Linked DNA regions of Homo sapiens. The protein of the gene in region 2 purifies or fractionates together with the protein of the main gene of each other region. This does not show direct contact. Each region holds a gene or a part of one and is shown on either strand. Other genes may lie near its edges.

Region 1 (4,717 bases), on a different chromosome or scaffold from region 2:
TTCATTTTGGAGATTTAAATGAAAAAGAGTTAGCTTATGATTAGAGGGGAAAAAAAGCAGGGGACAGCAGGGGAGTGCCAAAAGATTCAGATATCACACCTAGAATAATGGAAGAATACAGAGTGCATACACAGAAATTGAGAAACTAGAACAAAGAACCAACTTCAGAGAGGGAGATCATGTAAGTGGACTGCAAGTTTGAGGTATCAATGGCACATTCAAATGTACCATTTTATCAAGTAGATAGAAATGACTGAAACTTAAAGAGAGGCTAGATAAAAGACCTGGGCATCTTCTGCATGTGGTAACTGGTGAATATCTAGGAGTGGGTGAGGTTGCCAAGAAAGCAAGTATAGAAAGGAAATAAAAATGAGAATAGAATATAGTTTATTATTCTGTCTAGAAGACAGAAGAAAGATGCCAGTTAAGAAGAGAAGTGGTCAGGATTTTAAGAGACTCCAAACTGAGCAGCATGTCAATAATTAGGAAAGAGACAATTTCAGAATGGGAGTGGAAATTGTGACCAACACAGCCAAATCCTGGAGAGAAAAACAGATGCAGACTTTTATTTGGTACTTAACAAGTTATCAGAGACTTTTACAAAAGAAATTTCAAGATGTACAGGAGGTTCAGAAGGCAGAGAATTAGGAAAGCAATAAAATATAAGCCACTCTGTCAGAGAGTTTGGCATTGACAGGACAGAGAGAGTGAAGATTTCATTGGGAGAAGGGATTATTTCTATGGTATAACTGGGAGCAGAAAGAGGAGATGAATTTCCACATAGTCTATGTCAGTAATGAAACAATGTGTTTTATTATAAAATTAACATAGCCATCTTAAGTAGGCATGAGGGATCTTTTTGGGGTGATGGAAATATTCTAAAACTGAATGTGGTAATATTGTTGCACAGCTCAGTAAATTTACAAAAATAATTTAGTTGTACACTTAAAATGCTTGAATTTTGTGTGAATTATATCTCAATAAATCTGTTTAAAAAGTAATACTACCATATTATGGGCACTTTGGAAAACAAATAGAGAAAAGGAAAATAACCAATATCCTATTTTTCTAATATAAGTATTATTTTTTTTCCTGTGTTTGTTTTGAGTCTTTCGTTTGTTTATTTTCTAACATTATTATAATTATGAAATATACATATTGTTTCCTGCTTTTTCATAGACATTTCATAATACAGCACAGTATTCATAACCTTAATTGTTCATAAATGCATAGTTTTACATTGAGATGAGATAATCATTCTGATATTCTTTGAAATCAGACTTATCAAAATAAGTCAGTCATATAAATATTGTTTTAAGAACTGATGTGAATTCGGCTGGGCACGGTGGCTCACACCTGTAATCCCAGCACTTCGGGAGGCCAAGGCAGGTGGATCACCTCAGGTCAGGAGTTTGAGACCAGACTGGCCAACATGGCGAAACCCCTTCTCTTCTAAAAAAGTACAGAAATTAGCCGGGTGTGGTGGCAGGAGCCTGTTAACCCTTGGGAGGCTGAGGCAGGAGAATCGCTTGTTTTTTTGTTGTTGTTGTTTTTTGTTTTGTTTTGTTTCGTTTTTGAGATGGAGTTTTGCTCTTGTTGCCCAGGCTAGAGTACAATGGTGTGATCTCGGCTCACTGCAACCTCTGCCTCCCGGGTTCAAGTGATTCTCTTGCCTCAGCCTCCCGAGTAGCTAGGGTTACAGGCATGCACCACCACACCCGGCTAATTTTGTATTTTTAGTAGAGATGGGGTTTCTCCATGTTGGTCAGGCTGGTCTTGAACTCCTGACCTCAGGTGATCCACCTGCCTCGGCCTCCCAAAGTGCTGGGATTACAGGCATGAGCCACTGTGCCAGCCAGAGAATCGCTTGAACCCAGGAGGCAGAGGTTGCAGTGAGCTGAGATCGTGCCACTGCACTCCAACCTGGGTGACAGAGTAAGACTCCATCTCAAAAAAAAAAAAAAACTGGTGTGAATTAAATAGTATATATGAAGTGATTAATTTTGATGAAGAGAATCCATTTAAAGAAAGTAGGGAAAGAGAAGATGTATGAAGACACTGAGGAGATAGTCTGAGTTGGTCAAAAGGGAAATTAAGGTCATTTTCTCTGAGTAGTTGAAATTTTCTCCCATGATGTGATATGATGATGTGATTCTCCAGTGAGTGATGAGAGTCAAATGGAAGCTTGAAGATGGGGGAAGGTTTGGAATTGCTTTTTGGGAACCACAAGAGGAAGTTTTAAGTAAAGAGAGAAAAAAGTATAATGTGCAGACTAGAAAAAAAATATAGCACCACAGAAAGTTTACTGCATCGTTCTAGGATGCACAGCCACAAAAGGAGAAAGCCAGCTCTGAGGGGTCCCCAGACGAGGGACTAGAATTATGCATGAAACACAGGGCGTGATGACCAGAGAATCTGTGACGCTGGCAAAGAGTGCTCATCCTGACTGTGGTGTCTAGATGATTAGCTGAGCAAGATCAGGAGACCCTGGGGTACAGGAAGAGATTTTGTAGGAGGCTGTGGTGAGAATAGGGATTCTTGAAAATTCAAGGTTCAAGTTTAGCAGGACTATTTAGGTATTTATTTCAAGTTAATTGTCAGTCAGGTCATGTCAAGACTTTGAACACTGGCTTCTCTGAGAAATCCAGATGTGATAGTACTTGAATCAGTCTCACCTGGTCACACTTTCCTTAGTTGCTGATGTCATTTTTCTCTCTCACTATATGATTTATAATTGCATTTTCATTTTATATCTTCATTGCTTATATGTGCTTTTATTATAATACACTTAATGTTTTTGCAAACATAGGATACAGTGTTTTTGAAATGGATAAAAACTTCCACTCACATGGGCTCATGATTACCTCTATTTATTAAAATAATTAATATTCTTTTCTTATATCTAGATTGTGAAAGATGCATACCAAGAAAAGACAGCCACAGTTTATCCTGAACCGCAAAACAAAGAAGCATTTGTCCGCTCCCAGATGTATAGTACTGATTATGACCAGATTCTACCTGATTGTTATTCTTGGCCTGAAGAGGTGCAGAAAATACAGACCAAAGTTGACCAGTAGGATAATAGCAAACATTTCTAACTCTATTAATGAGGTCTTTAAACCTTTCATAATTTTTAAAGGTTGGAATCTTTTATAATGATTCATAAGACACTTAGATTAAGATTTTACTTTAACAGTCTAAAAATTGATAGAAGAATATCGATATAAATTGGGATAAACATCACATGAGACAATTTTGCTTCACTTTGCCTTCTGGTTATTTATGGTTTCTGTCTGAATTATTCTGCCTACGTTCTCTTTAAAAGCTGTTGTACGTACTACGGAGAAACTCATCATTTTTATACAGGACACTAATGGGAAGACCAAAATTACTAATAAATTGACATAACCAACATTAAAACTCATAATTATTTTGTTGACCATTTTGTTAAAATCTACTTTTCAAAAAAAAAAAGCTAGAAATGAATCTAGGCGTAGGTGAACTTTTGCTAAGCAGAAATAACACTACTTTGTTGCCTAGAGAAAGATAACTTCTCAAGTATTTTTATTCCAGTCCTAGATCATATATGTTCTTTTGTGCAACGGAATTCTAACAGTTCTAAGAGAAAGATCACTGCTGTTTACAGCGCCTTGTGCAGCCTTAGATTTTAATATTCTTTTGTCATTGTTACATCTCATAGAGTAAAGCTCTTATTACCTTGATCCTGAGTCAGAAATCCCACCTGAAATCACCTTTTTTCCCCCTTGATCAAACATCCCATCCTTCAGCTACCATACTGTTGCTACAGGGATTTTGTGGACTGTGGCCCCTGTCCCGAGGTTGGCACCTTCAGTTCAGCACAGCCTGAGCAGTGAGAAGGTCTGAAAGGAGAGTATATAGTTAAGATCCTTGAGAAAGGGCTGCCTGAGGAACTGACCTCTTAAAGATCTCAGGATCTTTAAGACAACAAGTTAGGTTCCTACTGGAGTTACCTGCCAGAATGGCCTCTTAATTAACTCAGGTAATGAAGAGCTAACTGTGTTATAATCATCTTGCTTTTGCCTGAATTTGGAGAAAGTATTATAATTAAGTTCCCAGTATCAGAAATGTCCTTACATAAGATTAAAATATCTTGATGACTAATACCATTCTATGAGAAAGAGTAGTTATATGCCCAGACTGTATTAATTTACTTTAGAAACTAATGTTTGAAGTAATGGAAAAAATTTTAAATTATAAAGCTAAGGTGCAATAACATTTGCTACTTATTTATAGAATTATTTGAAGAATTTTGTTTTTGAAGTAATGCTTTAAGGAGTATAAGATATTCAAGATAAATTATACTATAAAATGATTTTATTGAAAGTTGAAGGTTACACAAATTGTTTTAGGTATGAGCAGAAGAGGTTAAGGTATTTCTAAAGGTAACATATAGTCAAGAGTTTCCTCAAAATAGTTATTTGGAGAAGAATCAGAATGTCTGTGTATTTCTTGTCTGTTTCTATGTTGTCTTATAGCTCTGACTAAATGTGTTTACCTATGCAAAAGATTTATTAAAGCATAGAAAAGGTGAATGAATAAAAATATAAAATAATTGTCCTTTTTCTTAAAATGTTACATTGTAATGCTTGGTCTTGGGGTCATATGATTATGTGTGACGAATTTCTAAAATATTCTAATAACTGCTAATTTCAGTATAAACATCATTCATTTAAAA
Region 2 (4,164 bases):
GGCTGCTGCACGTGGCCATCCGCATCCGGCCTTTCTTCGACAGTGTAGGCTGGTTGGGGCAGGGGGAGGGAAGAGGGCCCCAGCCCTTCCTGCCTCTTACTCTGAGCTTTAGCCCCAGCCCCACCCTCCTCCCTGTCTCCCACCTCGGCTAGGTGACCGTGGAGAGCGCGGACCTGCAGGGCTGCTGCTTTGCTGGGCCTGGCAGCCCCCACCCGTAAGGCCCCCACCCGTCGGGGTGTTTCCTGGCCCGGGTCAGGCAAGGGCACCCATCAATGGCAGGGGGCTAGGCAGGCAGGCCTGCAGGGGCACAGCCTGTGAGGAGACGTATGCTGCATGTCCTTCCCAGGAGAAGATGGAGTTCCGGACGGCATCTATCCGCCTCTTTGGGCACCTTAACAAGGTCTGCCACGGAGACTGTGAGGACGTCTTCCTGGACCAGGTGGTGGGCGGGCTGGCGCCCCTGCTGCTGCACCTGCAGGACCCTCAGGCCACCGTGGCCAGCGTGAGTAGCCAGGGGGTGAGTGGGATGGGGTGGGTGGCCTCAACTGGACTTGGCCCCAGTGCCGCATCCCTTAGGCCTGCAGGTTTGCCCTGCGCATGTGTGGCCCCAATCTGGCATGTGAGGAGCTCTCAGCTGCTTTCCAGAAACACCTGCAGGAGGGCCGAGCCCTGCACTTCGGGGAGTTCCTCAACACCACCTGCAAGCACCTGGTGAGGGGTGGGGCCAGGCGGGGCGTGGTGGGTGGGGCGGGGCCAGGCGGCACTGACCAGGCCTCTCCCCAGATGCACCATTTCCCAGACCTGCTGGGCCGTCTCCTGACCACCTGCCTGTTCTACTTCAAGAGCAGCTGGGAGAACGTCCGAGCTGCTGCACCCCTGTTCACCGGTAAGCACCACCCCCTGCCCCACCCCCACGCCGCCCGGCAGCCCCGCCTGATGCCCCCACTTCACAGGGTTCCTGGTGCTGCACTCGGAGCCCAGGCAGCAGCCGCAGGTGGACCTGGACCAGCTCATTGCGGGTGAGCACCCCTCCACGGGGCCCCTCCGCTGGGCCCTGCTGACCCTGTAGGCACCCGCAGGGACTAAGTGATTTTCCTGGATTTCAGGACTTTTTCCCTGTCACTGGTGACCTCATCGTCTCTAGTAATTCACGGAAACTTCTTAACTGTTCCAAAAGAGCTTAAAAAACACTAAAAAAGGAAAAACGATCTTTCCGTTGGCTCCTGAGCCTCCCAGCAGAGGCTGTCAGGAGAGCGTGGCCCACGCGCAGGCATGGGCATGCCGAGGTCACAGCCCGCAGGCAGCCCCCCTCCTCTACCCCCAGCGCTCCAGATCCTGCTGAAGGACCCGGCCCCCGAGGTGCGGACGAGGGCTGCTGAGGCCCTGGGCCGCCTGGTGAAGCTCGCCTAAGGCTCCGGCCAGCACCCCCAGCGAGGAGTATGCACCCAGACCTGTGCCTGAGCTCCAAGACAGGGCCTCCTGAGGACCACAGCCTGGGCACACGACTGGAGGGGCCTGGCCCCAGAACAGGCACTGCTGGGGACCAAACCCAAGCCCTTCAGTGAGGGATGTGCCCAATAAACTCATCTGCTCCCAGCGAGTGACTGACAGGGTGCGATGCTGAGCCTCTTAGGGGATGGGCCAGAGGGTGCCCTGGACTGGCTGTGTTGTCCCCACTGTTTTTGCAAAATTGAGTGAGGGGAAGGCTCGGCGCTGTGGTGGGGGCGGCTTTGTTGGCAACCCCAATTCAAGAAGGTGGGAGCACCAGGCAGCACAGGGTAAAGGCTCTGTTGACTTCAGCACGACCACCCCAGCCCCAGGCAGGCAGAACAGCTAGGTGAAGAGGCGGACAGTCCCGTCTGCCCCCGAGGAGAAGACCCACGGCTGGGTGGGGTGGAAGATGACGTCCAGCACTCCCAGATCTCGGGTCAGCACGTGTCCCTTCAGCACCTTGACGGGCACCAGCAAGGGGTTCTGCAGAAGGTCACTGTGGGGACGAGGAGGGCTCAGGGCACGGCCAGACACCACTGCCCTGGGGAGGGGGCCAGGCAGGGTCAGCACTCACTTGTACACCATGCCATGGCAGACGATGACACTGCCGTCGTCCGAGCCTGACGCAAAGAGTGGGTACCGCGGGTGGAAGGCCACAGCCCGCAGAGCCTTCTTGTGGTGTCTGGGGGGAGGGAACCAGGTTGAAGGCAGGCTCGGGCTGAAGGGAGGGGCTCTGCTGGCCGCCTCCACCCCCAGCTTTCCTCACCTCAGCATCCTGTATGGCTTGGTGGAAAGATCCAGGTCAAACCACACCAGCTTGCTATCGTAGCTCCCACAGATGACGTTGTCACCTAGGGCCAAAGGCTGTGATGCAGGTGTTCCCGCTCTCACCTGCAGGGTGCACTGCCCTGCCCGTCACCTACACCCCTCACCTGCAGGGTGCACTGCCCCTACCCCCACCCCTCACCTGCAGGGTACACCGCCCCCCCCCCCACCCCTCACCTGCAGGGTGCACCGCCCCCACCCCTCACCTGCAGGGTGCACCGCCAGGCTGGACACCCACTTGCAGTTGGGCATCAGCTTCTTGGTGAGCTCCTGGCGCAGCAGGTGGTAGAGGCGGACGCTGCGCTGGGACGCCACCAACAGGAAGGGCCGGGCAGGGTGGAAGGCCACTCGCTGCACCTGTCCGTGGCTGCGGCGGAACGGACTCTGGCTGCGGCGACGGCTCAGCTGGTGAATCAGCACCTGGGTGTGGCCTTGGGTGGCCAGCACCACGGCCAGGTAGTCCCCACGCCCGTGCCAGGTCACCTGCGTCACTGGCTGCAGGAGAGCAAGGCTGGCTGAGTGGCTGAGCCGGGCCCCTCCCGCTGCAGCCTCACCCCCAAGGCGCCCCACGTACCTTCCCGTGGCAGATGCGCAGCCGCAGGCCCACTTGGCGCTCCTCCTCTGAGGCCTCCAGCCAGCGGGCCGGCTGCAAGGGGGGCTCCTCAGGCGGGACGAAGGCGCTCAACAGCTGATCTGTGCTGCCCGCCACCAGCCGGTCCCCCAGAGCTGGGTTCAGCAGCAGCACCGAGTCCTCCCTGTGAGCCAGGCCCAGACACGGCCCCTAAGCACAGTGCCACCCCTGGCTCCCCAGCCCCCAGGGCCTCCACTTACACGGCTGCAGCCACCAGGCAGACAGCGGGGCTGGGGTTCCAGGCCACACTCTTCACCACGCCCCCCACGGGAACAGTCCTCACACAGCGGGCAGTGGCCACCTCCCAGAGCCGCAGGGAGCCGTCGTCAGAGCCTGGATGCGGCAGAGACAGCTCTCAACACCTGGCCATCCCACCTGCCCCCCAGCTCAAGGCTGCCCCCAGCTCGGACCCACCTGAAACCAGCCACTGGCCCCCAGGAGAGACACTGAGGCACCGGACAAGGTCACTGTGGCCCCTGTAGACCTGAGGAGGCGGCGGCAGTGAGGAGTCAGACTGGGAGGGTGCAACCCCAGCCCCCTAGTCTCCACTTACCAGGGCCTGGCACGTGGGGAAGGGCTGCAGGTCCCTCGGCCGAGGCAGCTTGGGGATGAGGTCCTCAGGGTCTACATTCACCTGGGGCAGGAGAGCGCCAGGTCAGCCTTGCCCCCTGTGCCACCCCCCTGGTGTGCCACCCCCACACACCCTCATCTTGCGCTGCCGTGGGCACAGGTACAGGTCAAGGCAGCGCTCGAAGCGTTCCTGGATGAAGCGTCCGTAGGCAGGCACGGCCCGCAGGCTCGGGAACTTGCGTGGCAAAAAGCTCAGCTTCCTCTCGCCTGGCTCCTGCTGTTCCCACGCCAAGCGCTGTGGAGACCAAGACACAGGGGTGGGGAGGGTCACAGGGAAGCATGGGGACAGGGTCCCGGCCCCCAGGATGCAGGCCCACCTCCTCCTCGCTGAGCAGGTATTCAGGGGGTGGGTTGTACGACTCGGCGTGGCCTGGCAGGGCCAGCTTGGGAGCAGGTACGTGCATCTTGTGGCGCCCGAGCACGGCGTTGGGGTCCTCCTGGGCCCACAGGTCATAGAAGCTGGGGGTGGGGTCTCGGGGCCGGCGAGGCTGGATCCAGCCCATCTTGATGGCGTGCACCATGCGAGAGACCTGCATAGACAGCCGGGTCAGGACGGGCAGTGCGGGGCGGTCAGCCCAGGCCAAGCC
Region 3 (3,941 bases), on a different chromosome or scaffold from region 2:
AGTAATCCCAGCACTTTGGGAGGCCGAGGCGGGTGGATCACAAGGTCAGGAGATCCAGACCATCCTGGCTAACACGGTGAAACCCTATCTCTACTAACAATACAAAAAATTAGCCGGGCATGCTGGCTGGCGCCTGTAGTCCCAGCTACTCAGGCAGCTGAGGCAGGAGAATGGTGTGAACCCGGGAGGCGGAGCTTGCAGTGAGCCGAGATCGCACCATTGCACTCCAGCCTGGGGGACAGAGCGAGACTGTCTCAAAAAAAAAAAAAAAAGTCTCCTGTAAGAGGTGAGAGCCTGGGTTCAAACTCAGGTTCTCTGCCTCCAAATCACACACTCTTAGCAACCAGTCTCTATTGTTGATCTCTCCCTATGGGTGGAAGCCCTAGGGAACAGGTGGTGGGGAAAGGAGGTAAGGGCAGGGCCCAGAGTCAGGAGTAGGTGTCAGAGCCCTAGGGTGGGGTGGAGAGGTCAGCAGGGCTCTTACAGCAGCTGTGGCCTGGATCAGCGGTGTGGCATTATCTTGGCCCCCATTGACCCAGTTGACATCAGCTCCATGGGCAAGGGCATCAGCCATGGTGGGAAGAGATGGAGGATGCCCAGACGCTCGAAACAGTAGGGCCCCAGGGTGCAGGCTTCCCAGGTCCTCAGAGGGGGGCTCTGTTCGGGGGATTTGGTTCTGTTAGGGGGAAGCAGCTCCGAGTCTGGGAAGAAAACCCTCAGCAGTGTCCCAATGCTATAATGGGACAGGTCTCTTCTAAATGATGGGGAGCTTGGGACTGTGGAGGGAATAGAGTGATGCAAGTGTGGGTATGTGTAAGTATGCGTATGCATGTGTACGAGTCCCTAGGGTGTGGGGGAGAGACGGCATCATCACCTCATCTGGTCCAACCACACTTGGCCTCAGCTCTCAACCCCTGACGCTCCAGCCAAACCCACCCCCTCTCTCTCTCCTTTTCTTGTGCTGTTGGCACCCCTTACCCTCCCTGCCCACGCCCAGCCCCACATTCCTTCTCATTCTTAATGTCACACTCCACCGTAACCCCTGAAACGGCAGTCCGGTCCCTCCGACATTGTCCAGCGGAAGGCCTGGGCTTCACACTCTGTGCCTCCCGGCGCTACCTGGCACGATGCCGAGCACACAGCAGATGCTCAATGAATGCCCAACCAACCCTATACCTGGCTTGGATCTCAAGCTCCCTGGCCGGGGCCTGATGGAAGGCTTTGGGGGCACAGGAGGCTGCCCCCTTGGGCGCCCCCGGCCACCTCTTCGCCCTCGAATCTCAGGCAGCTTGGTCAGGAACTTCTTCTCCACGTATTTAGCGTGAATCCAGGCCTCCTTCTCCTGCCTGTGGGAGGGGAGAAGCACGCAGTCTTCCCTCTTCTGCTCCAGGGGTCCCCCATTCCCCTGGGAGGCTAAACCCCAAGCTCACCGGGAGCAGCTGGGCCCTGGTTTCTTCACTGCCATGGCCTCCACGCGGGCCTCATAGATCTGGTTGATGATGACATTTCCCAGCTCACACATGAGCTTCAGGAGGCCCAGGCAGAGGCAGAGACAGGGAAGGTGGGGGTGAGTGACTCCTCAGGGATCACGCCCCTGCACCGCCATGTCCTTGCCCCACCCCAAGTTCTTGCCCCCAATCTTCACAATACGCTAAGTTACCTTCACTAGTTCTGGCTCCCATGAGTCAAGGGTCAGAGACCGGACTTTGGAGAAGTGAACACCAAGGCTCCTGGAGGGCCAGAGGGGGAGGGTCAGGCCCTGTGCAGGGGGGCAGTGGCCTGGGGAGCTGCTGCTGCTCCTGAAGACACTGGGAGGCAAGGCTGGCATGGGGGCCCGTGCAGAGGTGCTGGCCCAGGAGGCAGGGCAGCTGCGGCCATGTAACCGCCATGTAGCCTTGACCTGGCCCTGGCAGGACTCTGCCTCGTCACCATTCCTTCTTCCTTAGGTTTCATTTCAAGGCCCTCATCACTCCAGCCACCTCCCTTCTCTAGTGACACTTGTGACACTTTGGCCTGGACAACCTCTCCCATGTCACCTCCCTTCCACCACACTGAGGTGGGGGGCGAGGGCCTTAGATACTTGCTAAGGCCTCATGACCGTTTCTCTGCCTAGTCTTCACTGGCTCCCCCACCCTCAGCAGCCTTGACCCCACACTTCTTCCAACCAAGCCAACAAATTCTGGGTATCCCCCAATTCTGGCCAGACTAGGACACAGAGGGGCTAGGCCCGCCTGGGTCCAACTGGCACCCCAGAGGCTTGGGCCCAGGCCTGGTACCCAGTGACAAAGCCAGAAGCTAAGAGAGGAAGCCAGGACAGGGAAGGAAGAGGGGCCGGTGTGATGCGCTCTGTATTGGAGCCGCACTGTGGCCCGAAGGAGTGGGGCTCCCGCATGGGCCTTGTGGAGTAACCTGTGGATGCCGGAACACTGAATGCAGAGGGTGACACCAAGGTTGATGCTGGCCCACTCCGGGGCTGGCTCCCGGCAGTCGCAGCACTGGGCATTGCCATCCACACTCTGGACCTGGGCCACCACGTGCCCGACTCCCCCAGGCTCCCTTCCCCTGGCCATTCCACCAGAGCCCAGGGTGGCAGCAGAGCCTATGGCCAGGTGTCCTGAGCCCTGGGGGAGAGAGGGGAAGAAAGGGTGGCCAAGGGGCCTAGGGTAAAGGGTGCCCCATCTCCACAGGCAGCCTGGCTCCGCACCCCCAGGTTAAGGTACCTGGCCTGGACCCCGGGGGCTGTCATCAAGGCGAGCCTGACTGAAGGCAGAAGCAATGCTGCTCTGCACAGCACTGACCCACAGCTGCAGGAGGCGCTCTGAGTCAGCCTGGAGGAGGCAGGACCTAGGTAGGAGGGTGAGGGAGATGGCAGAGGGGTCTGAGGCCTGGGAAGCAAAGTGGCAGCATGGGCAGACTGACATTCAGCCAGTATTCAACCAGTTCCAGTTGCATTGAAAGACTTCTGTACCAGTTGGTAATATTCTCCTAAATATCCCCCATCACCCTGTACCCTCTTCCACAATGGCCCCCCAGTCCAGCCGCCAAAGAATTAAATTAAAGTCTGGAGCTGCATGGGGGGCCTCCATTGTGGTGGGCCCTGCCTTTCAGATTGGCAGTTGTTTAGATATATTAGAGTATCACCCCTGGGGATTGCACTCACTTGCTGGTGGACACCACCTCAAAGCAGAACCGCCTTTCTGAGTCAGGGCAGAGTTTCACTGTGCAGAGACGAAGGTCATCCACCACCACAGTCACAGGGTCCTGGCAGGATAAGGTGATAAGGGGCCAGATGTCCAGCTGCAGGCAAGAGCTGAGTCTCCCTGGGGCCCAGGCATCCAGGACCCAGGTCCACTCACCTTGTACTTCTTCTGGTAAACCAGTTGGTTGCTCTGAATGGTGAACCAGCGTCTGTAAGAGAAGGAAATCATTACAGACATAGGCAGCTTTAGGATGAGGGACGGAAGAGAGGCTGTGCTTTTTGCCCATGAGGATCTTACTGAGAGGACAGACACCTGGGCTGACTGTTCCACGAGACATTCCAGAGAAGGGTGGACAATTGTGCAGATTGGAACATCTAAAGGATGCTATTCCTATCTTGGACAACCCAGATTTCATATAGTTATGAAGACAACTTTCCAGCAGATGGCAGTAAAATTCTTTTTCTAATAAAATGTCTATTGCTACAATTTAAAAAATACTATTTAGGCTGGGCTCACACCTGTAATCCCAGCACTTTGGGAGGCTGATGGGGGTGGTGGATCACCCGAGGTCAGGAGTTTGAGACCACCCTGACCAATATGGTGAAACTCCGTCTCTACTAAAAATACAAAAATTAGCCAGGCGTGGTGGCAGGCGGCTATAATCCCACCTACTTGGGAGGCTGAGGCAGGAGAATCGCTTGAACCCAGGAAGCTGAGGTTGCAGTGAGCTGAGATCGCACC
Region 4 (4,717 bases), on a different chromosome or scaffold from region 2:
TGTAGACCTGCTGCAATAGACAACAGAAGTGAATAAAGTATTTTGAAATGAGTGTTCTGAGGGTGCACTGACTGGGTATTAAGTATAAGACAGAGCTGGAAGGAAAAAAAAAAGCCAGCTGAAGGTGACTAGAGAAAGCAAAATATATGGAGATAAGGATCTGGACTCCACAGCAATGGAAAAGGAGTGGAATGAACAACTATATGAGATGTTTCAAAGGAAAAGCAACAGGATTTAGAAAACTGAGTAAATCCTATGGGTAAAGGGAGAATGATTCAAAGCATACTTCATTCTTGGAAGCATGAGTGACTGATAAAAAATATTAGTGCTATTGTCAGAGATTGTGGGATAAAGAACCGATTTGCAAGCAAAAGGGAGAAAATGATGAGTTTGGTTGCATTTGGGGAGAAATGAAGACATCTGTTTAGAAATCTTCCTTAGAAATTTAGAGATACGGGACTAGAAGTTTATGTAGCTGGGATTTATCTGAGAAACCATCAGATTCAAGACAATAATTATAGTCCAAGAACTGATGATTAGTCTGATGAACAGACTGACAAGAAATATAACAAAAGACGTGGGACTAAGCTTTGAGGAGATGGGTAGTTTGGCACAGTTCGTGCCAGAAAGCATGGAGTAAGTATAAAAGCAGCAGATCTTTAATGCAAGTCACATGTAGAAGACATTAGTAAGCTTATATATTTAATATTCTGGAAATGTTGACTAGATGAGTAGTAATAGTGACTATAGGAAATTCAGTCTGAATTTTTAAAAACTTGTTTTGTTGGGCTCAAATTCTAAAATTCTACGTTTGTTTTTATCCTTAGAGTTTCTGAAGACCACAGCATGTTGAAAAAAAGAAAATGTACTCATTTTTGGCTGCCACAACTATATATTCTTTTTAAAAGTAAATATGTATTTAGTTAGATTAAGAATTAGAAACAACTCATTATAAGAAAATGTGGACCTATAACATGTTTTTAATTTTAATACTATAGTCACTAAAATGTGAAATTCATGAGACTCAAATATCCAGGTGAAAAGAAACCAGCCATCTGAATGATTTTGTCTGTATAATACTTACATCTAGATAGACCCAGATGACTGATAACATTCACAATTTTCTGTGGAATATTGAATTTTTTTGCTAATCATGTTTCTTTAGAATTGTTTTTAATTATGTGCTTATGATTGAGAGTACAAAATTTCAAAAGCATATGAAAATTAACATTGGCCAGCCACGTGTTGTGGCTCACTTGTGTTATCTCGGCACTTTGGGAGACTGAGGTGAGAGGATTGCGTGAGCCCAGAAGTTCAAGACCAGCCTGGGCAACATAGCAAGACTCTGTCTCTACAAAAAATTTAAAAATTAACTGGGCAGGTGTGGTGGCACATGCCTGTAGTCCCAGCTACTCAGGAGGCGGAGGCCAGAGGATGGCTTGAGCTCAGGAGTTTTAAGCTACAGTGAGCTATAATAGCACTACCGTACTCCAGCTAGGGTGACAGAACAAGATCCTGTCTCAAAAAACAAAAAACAAAACAAAACAAACAAACAAAAAGAACATTTAAGTGTTTCAGATGTTCTGGAATTTTAGGAGACTTCTCTTTGAATATTGTACTTCTTTATTTTTTCAAAAGTACCTCTTTGATTATATGTATGTGTCTATCTATGTAGATATAGATATCTTTTCACTATTCTGGGGGTGGGGAAGAGTTTATATGTCACTGTATAACATTCTCATCAAAATGATCTCCCTCAATGATTTTGTGTATATGTGTGTGTGTTCAGCCACAGTTCCTTCCGAAGACACCTGCCGAGGCAAATGCAGGTTTCCAGTGTTGATTTTAGCATGGGCACAGAACCTGTTTTACAACGAGGAGAAACAACAACCAGCATTGGGAGGATAAAGCCAGAACTCTACAAACAGAAATCAGTTGACTCTGAGGGCAACCAAAACGAAGATGTCAAAATCTGTGGGAAACTTAACTTTACCCTCCAGTATGATTATGAAAATGAACTTCTAGTTGTTAAAATTATCAAAGCTTTAGATCTCCCTGCTAAAGACTTCACAGGAACTTCTGACCCTTATGTGAAGATGTATCTTCTTCCAGATAGGAAAAAGAAATTTCAGACCCGCGTGCACAGAAAGACTTTAAATCCTCTATTTGATGAAACTTTTCAATTTCCTGTAGCATATGATCAACTAAGCAACCGAAAACTACATTTCAGTGTGTATGATTTTGACAGATTTTCTAGACATGACATGATTGGGGAAGTGATTCTTGATAATTTGTTTGAAGTCTCTGATCTCTCCAGGGAAGCCACAGTATGGAAAGATATTCACTGTGCTACCACAGTAAGTAGTAATTCCACCAATATATTGTTTTTTATTTGACTTACAATGCTATGTGACTAATTATTACCCAAATTATCGGAATAAGCCTTGCAGAGTTATGGAATTTATGTCTAAGATCCTGCAAAGGTAGAATTTCATTTCTACTAATAATAATTCAGGCACCTAATGCTGAATATACTAGTAACCCTAGTGATTGTGTGAATAAAAAAACGTAGCTCTTATAAATTAGCAGAACTGGTAGGCTATTTCTCCTTTAAAATATTCATCTGTAATATAAATATCCTATCTGCAGCACCAAGTTTCCTCACAGTTAGTATTGACTTTCATTATTTAAGGTAATTTTGTTATTTTCATTATTTTAGAAATTATTTCACTCTTTAAGAATAATGACTTCATTATTTAAGATAATTCATCAGATCAAACCTAAAATGTACTTTGATGCTATTTGGAAAAGTCCTTGGTTTGATCTGAAACAACCCATTATTTCAGAAGCTTTCAGGGAATACACACAATTACAATATATGAAATGATCAGTGATCAAGAAGTAATCATTGTTTACATTAAAACTTTTCTTTTTCATTACAAAATACTTTTTCTGATTATAAAATAATACCAACTTTAGTACTGAAAATTTAAAAAACAGTAAAAACACATAGCATAAAATTAAAATAATCTACAGTGCTACCAATTATATTTAATATTTTGGCATATTGCTTTCCAACTTTTTGCTATGCATATTTTAAAATATTAAGACCATACTAAGTTAAATTTTTTCAAGCCAATTTTCTTTCATTCTATATTTGTTTTAGTGCATGATGTTGAAATACATGATCCATTTAACCATTTTCTTACTGTTAGACACTTAAGTTAGGGATAAATTTTGTTATATGAAAAATTATGTTCTTTTTTTGTAAATCTGTTTTTTTTTTCAAGATTATTTGTCCGGTATAGAATTATAGAAGTGGAATTAGAGAAGTGATCTCTTAAGTTAGATTGTTTTCTTTATTAGTTTTTAAATGGGGACATTTAATTTTTTACCATCAGGTTGTTTTTACATATTTACTGTCTTTTGTTTGAGTTGTATCGCAACTTACAAGTTTAAAATGTTGAAGTTTTGAACAGAGACAAGGGATTATTTAAAATATAAGCATTTTTTTATTCAAAATAGCTTGTGTTTTTCCATTTATGAATGTTTTACTAATTACAATCAGTATGTGGGATAATTATATTGTCATTGTAAATTATGTGGATAAATTAATTTAAAAATTTATACTGCCAGTTCAATATTGTATTCCAGCATTATAACATTTTTGGTTGTTGGATTTTTGTGTCATAATCTCTATTGCAATATCTATTAAGGAACAAAGAAGGAATTTTGAAAGGGGATTATATTTCAAATGCACAGTGGGGCTCTTTTGATTTCACATTTGTGTTCATTTTATTACCTATATTCCCACGGGGAAAACATGATGAATACTAATTTTTATTGTTTTTAAAAATAACACCTTCTAGAATTCTACAAATGCAGATGGCAATTAATTGTTAGATTATTTCTCTTGATTCCTCAGTCTTATTATTACTTTTTATTTATTCAACAAATATTTACCTATATATGTTTGGCATGCTCTAAGTACTAGGGTTGCAACAAACACATTTCTATAAAAAAGTAAAGTATGTTATGTACATATATTCAGGCTCAGAGGTAAATAATCTGCCAATGAAATCTAAAAAATTAGTATAATCGACTAGGAGATTGTGATTTTTTTTTTTAAACATTCATACGTTTTCCAAACTGGTTCTACTTAGAAAAAAGTAGGAGTTCCTTGTGGAAACTTTAGTTTCTCATTGCTAATAATATTTATTCATTGTTTGGTAAATATTAATAAATTACTTAAATTTATTTGCAACTCTCCCATATGCCTTGTATATTAGTTTTTATTTCTGCTATAAAAATTACCACAAATTTAGCTTACACAAACATTTTACAGTTTGGTTAGAAATCTTTTACAGTTTGGTTAGAAATACAGTTTGGTTAGAAATTACCACAAATGTAGTCTTACACAAACATTTTACAGTTTGGTTAGAAACCTAACATGGGGCCAGGTGTGGTGGCTCATGCCTGTAATTCCCAACACTTTGGGAGGCCAAGGTGGGTGGATCACGAGGTCAAGAGTTCAAGACCAGCCTGGCCAGCATGGTGAAACCCCATCTCTACTAAAAATACAAAAAATTAACCAGACATGGTGTCACATGCCTGTAATCCCAGCTACTTGGGAGGCTGAATCAGGAGAATTGCTTGAACCCGGGAGGCGGAGGTCGCAGTGAGCTGAGATCGCAGCCACTGCACTCCAGCCTGGGCA

What was found.
Region 1: the proteins of BOP1 (region 2) and ME1 fractionate together in Homo sapiens (co-fractionation; one large-scale study listed by BioGRID). This does not show direct contact.
Region 3: the proteins of BOP1 (region 2) and ACAP1 purify together in Homo sapiens (affinity purification with mass spectrometry, with the first as the bait; one study listed by BioGRID). This does not show direct contact.
Region 4: the proteins of BOP1 (region 2) and SYT10 purify together in Homo sapiens (affinity purification with mass spectrometry, with the first as the bait; one study listed by BioGRID). This does not show direct contact.

Annotation. Positions count from the first base shown.
Region 1 is NC_000006.12:83,210,284-83,215,000, reverse strand, and holds the end of ME1 (NADP-dependent malic enzyme), read left to right. Parts: intron 1-2,906; coding exon 2,907-3,077; 3' UTR 3,078-4,599; downstream 4,600-4,717. UniProt on the Homo sapiens protein: Catalyzes the oxidative decarboxylation of (S)-malate in the presence of NADP(+) and divalent metal ions, and decarboxylation of oxaloacetate.
Region 2 is NC_000008.11:144,260,331-144,264,494, forward strand, and holds the end of BOP1 (ribosome biogenesis protein BOP1), read right to left. Parts: intron 4,108-4,164; coding exon 3,895-4,107; intron 3,813-3,894; coding exon 3,651-3,812; intron 3,582-3,650; coding exon 3,501-3,581; intron 3,432-3,500; coding exon 3,362-3,431; intron 3,281-3,361; coding exon 3,148-3,280; intron 3,072-3,147; coding exon 2,891-3,071; intron 2,812-2,890; coding exon 2,523-2,811; intron 2,408-2,522; exon of another isoform or gene 2,343-2,407; coding exon 2,258-2,342; intron 2,174-2,257; coding exon 2,066-2,173; intron 1,988-2,065; coding exon 1,834-1,987; 3' UTR 1,715-1,833; downstream 1-1,714. Other genes in the region: MROH1 (maestro heat-like repeat-containing protein family member 1), read left to right, coding at 1-44, 153-214, 347-502, 585-711, 784-886, 954-1,019, 1,325-1,410. UniProt on the Homo sapiens protein: Component of the PeBoW complex, which is required for maturation of 28S and 5.8S ribosomal RNAs and formation of the 60S ribosome.
Region 3 is NC_000017.11:7,345,711-7,349,651, reverse strand, and holds part of ACAP1 (arf-GAP with coiled-coil, ANK repeat and PH domain-containing protein 1), read right to left. Parts: intron 3,409-3,941; coding exon 3,357-3,408; intron 3,262-3,356; coding exon 3,161-3,261; intron 2,845-3,160; coding exon 2,721-2,844; intron 2,622-2,720; coding exon 2,410-2,621; intron 1,731-2,409; coding exon 1,661-1,730; intron 1,526-1,660; coding exon 1,431-1,525; intron 1,347-1,430; coding exon 1,177-1,346; intron 658-1,176; coding exon 485-657; intron 1-484. UniProt on the Homo sapiens protein: GTPase-activating protein (GAP) for ADP ribosylation factor 6 (ARF6) required for clathrin-dependent export of proteins from recycling endosomes to trans-Golgi network and cell surface.
Region 4 is NC_000012.12:33,404,429-33,409,145, reverse strand, and holds part of SYT10 (synaptotagmin-10), read left to right. Parts: intron 1-827; exon of another isoform or gene 828-907; intron 908-1,789; coding exon 1,790-2,357; intron 2,358-4,717. UniProt on the Homo sapiens protein: Ca(2+) sensor specifically required for the Ca(2+)-dependent exocytosis of secretory vesicles containing IGF1 in neurons of the olfactory bulb. Exocytosis of IGF1 is required for sensory perception of smell.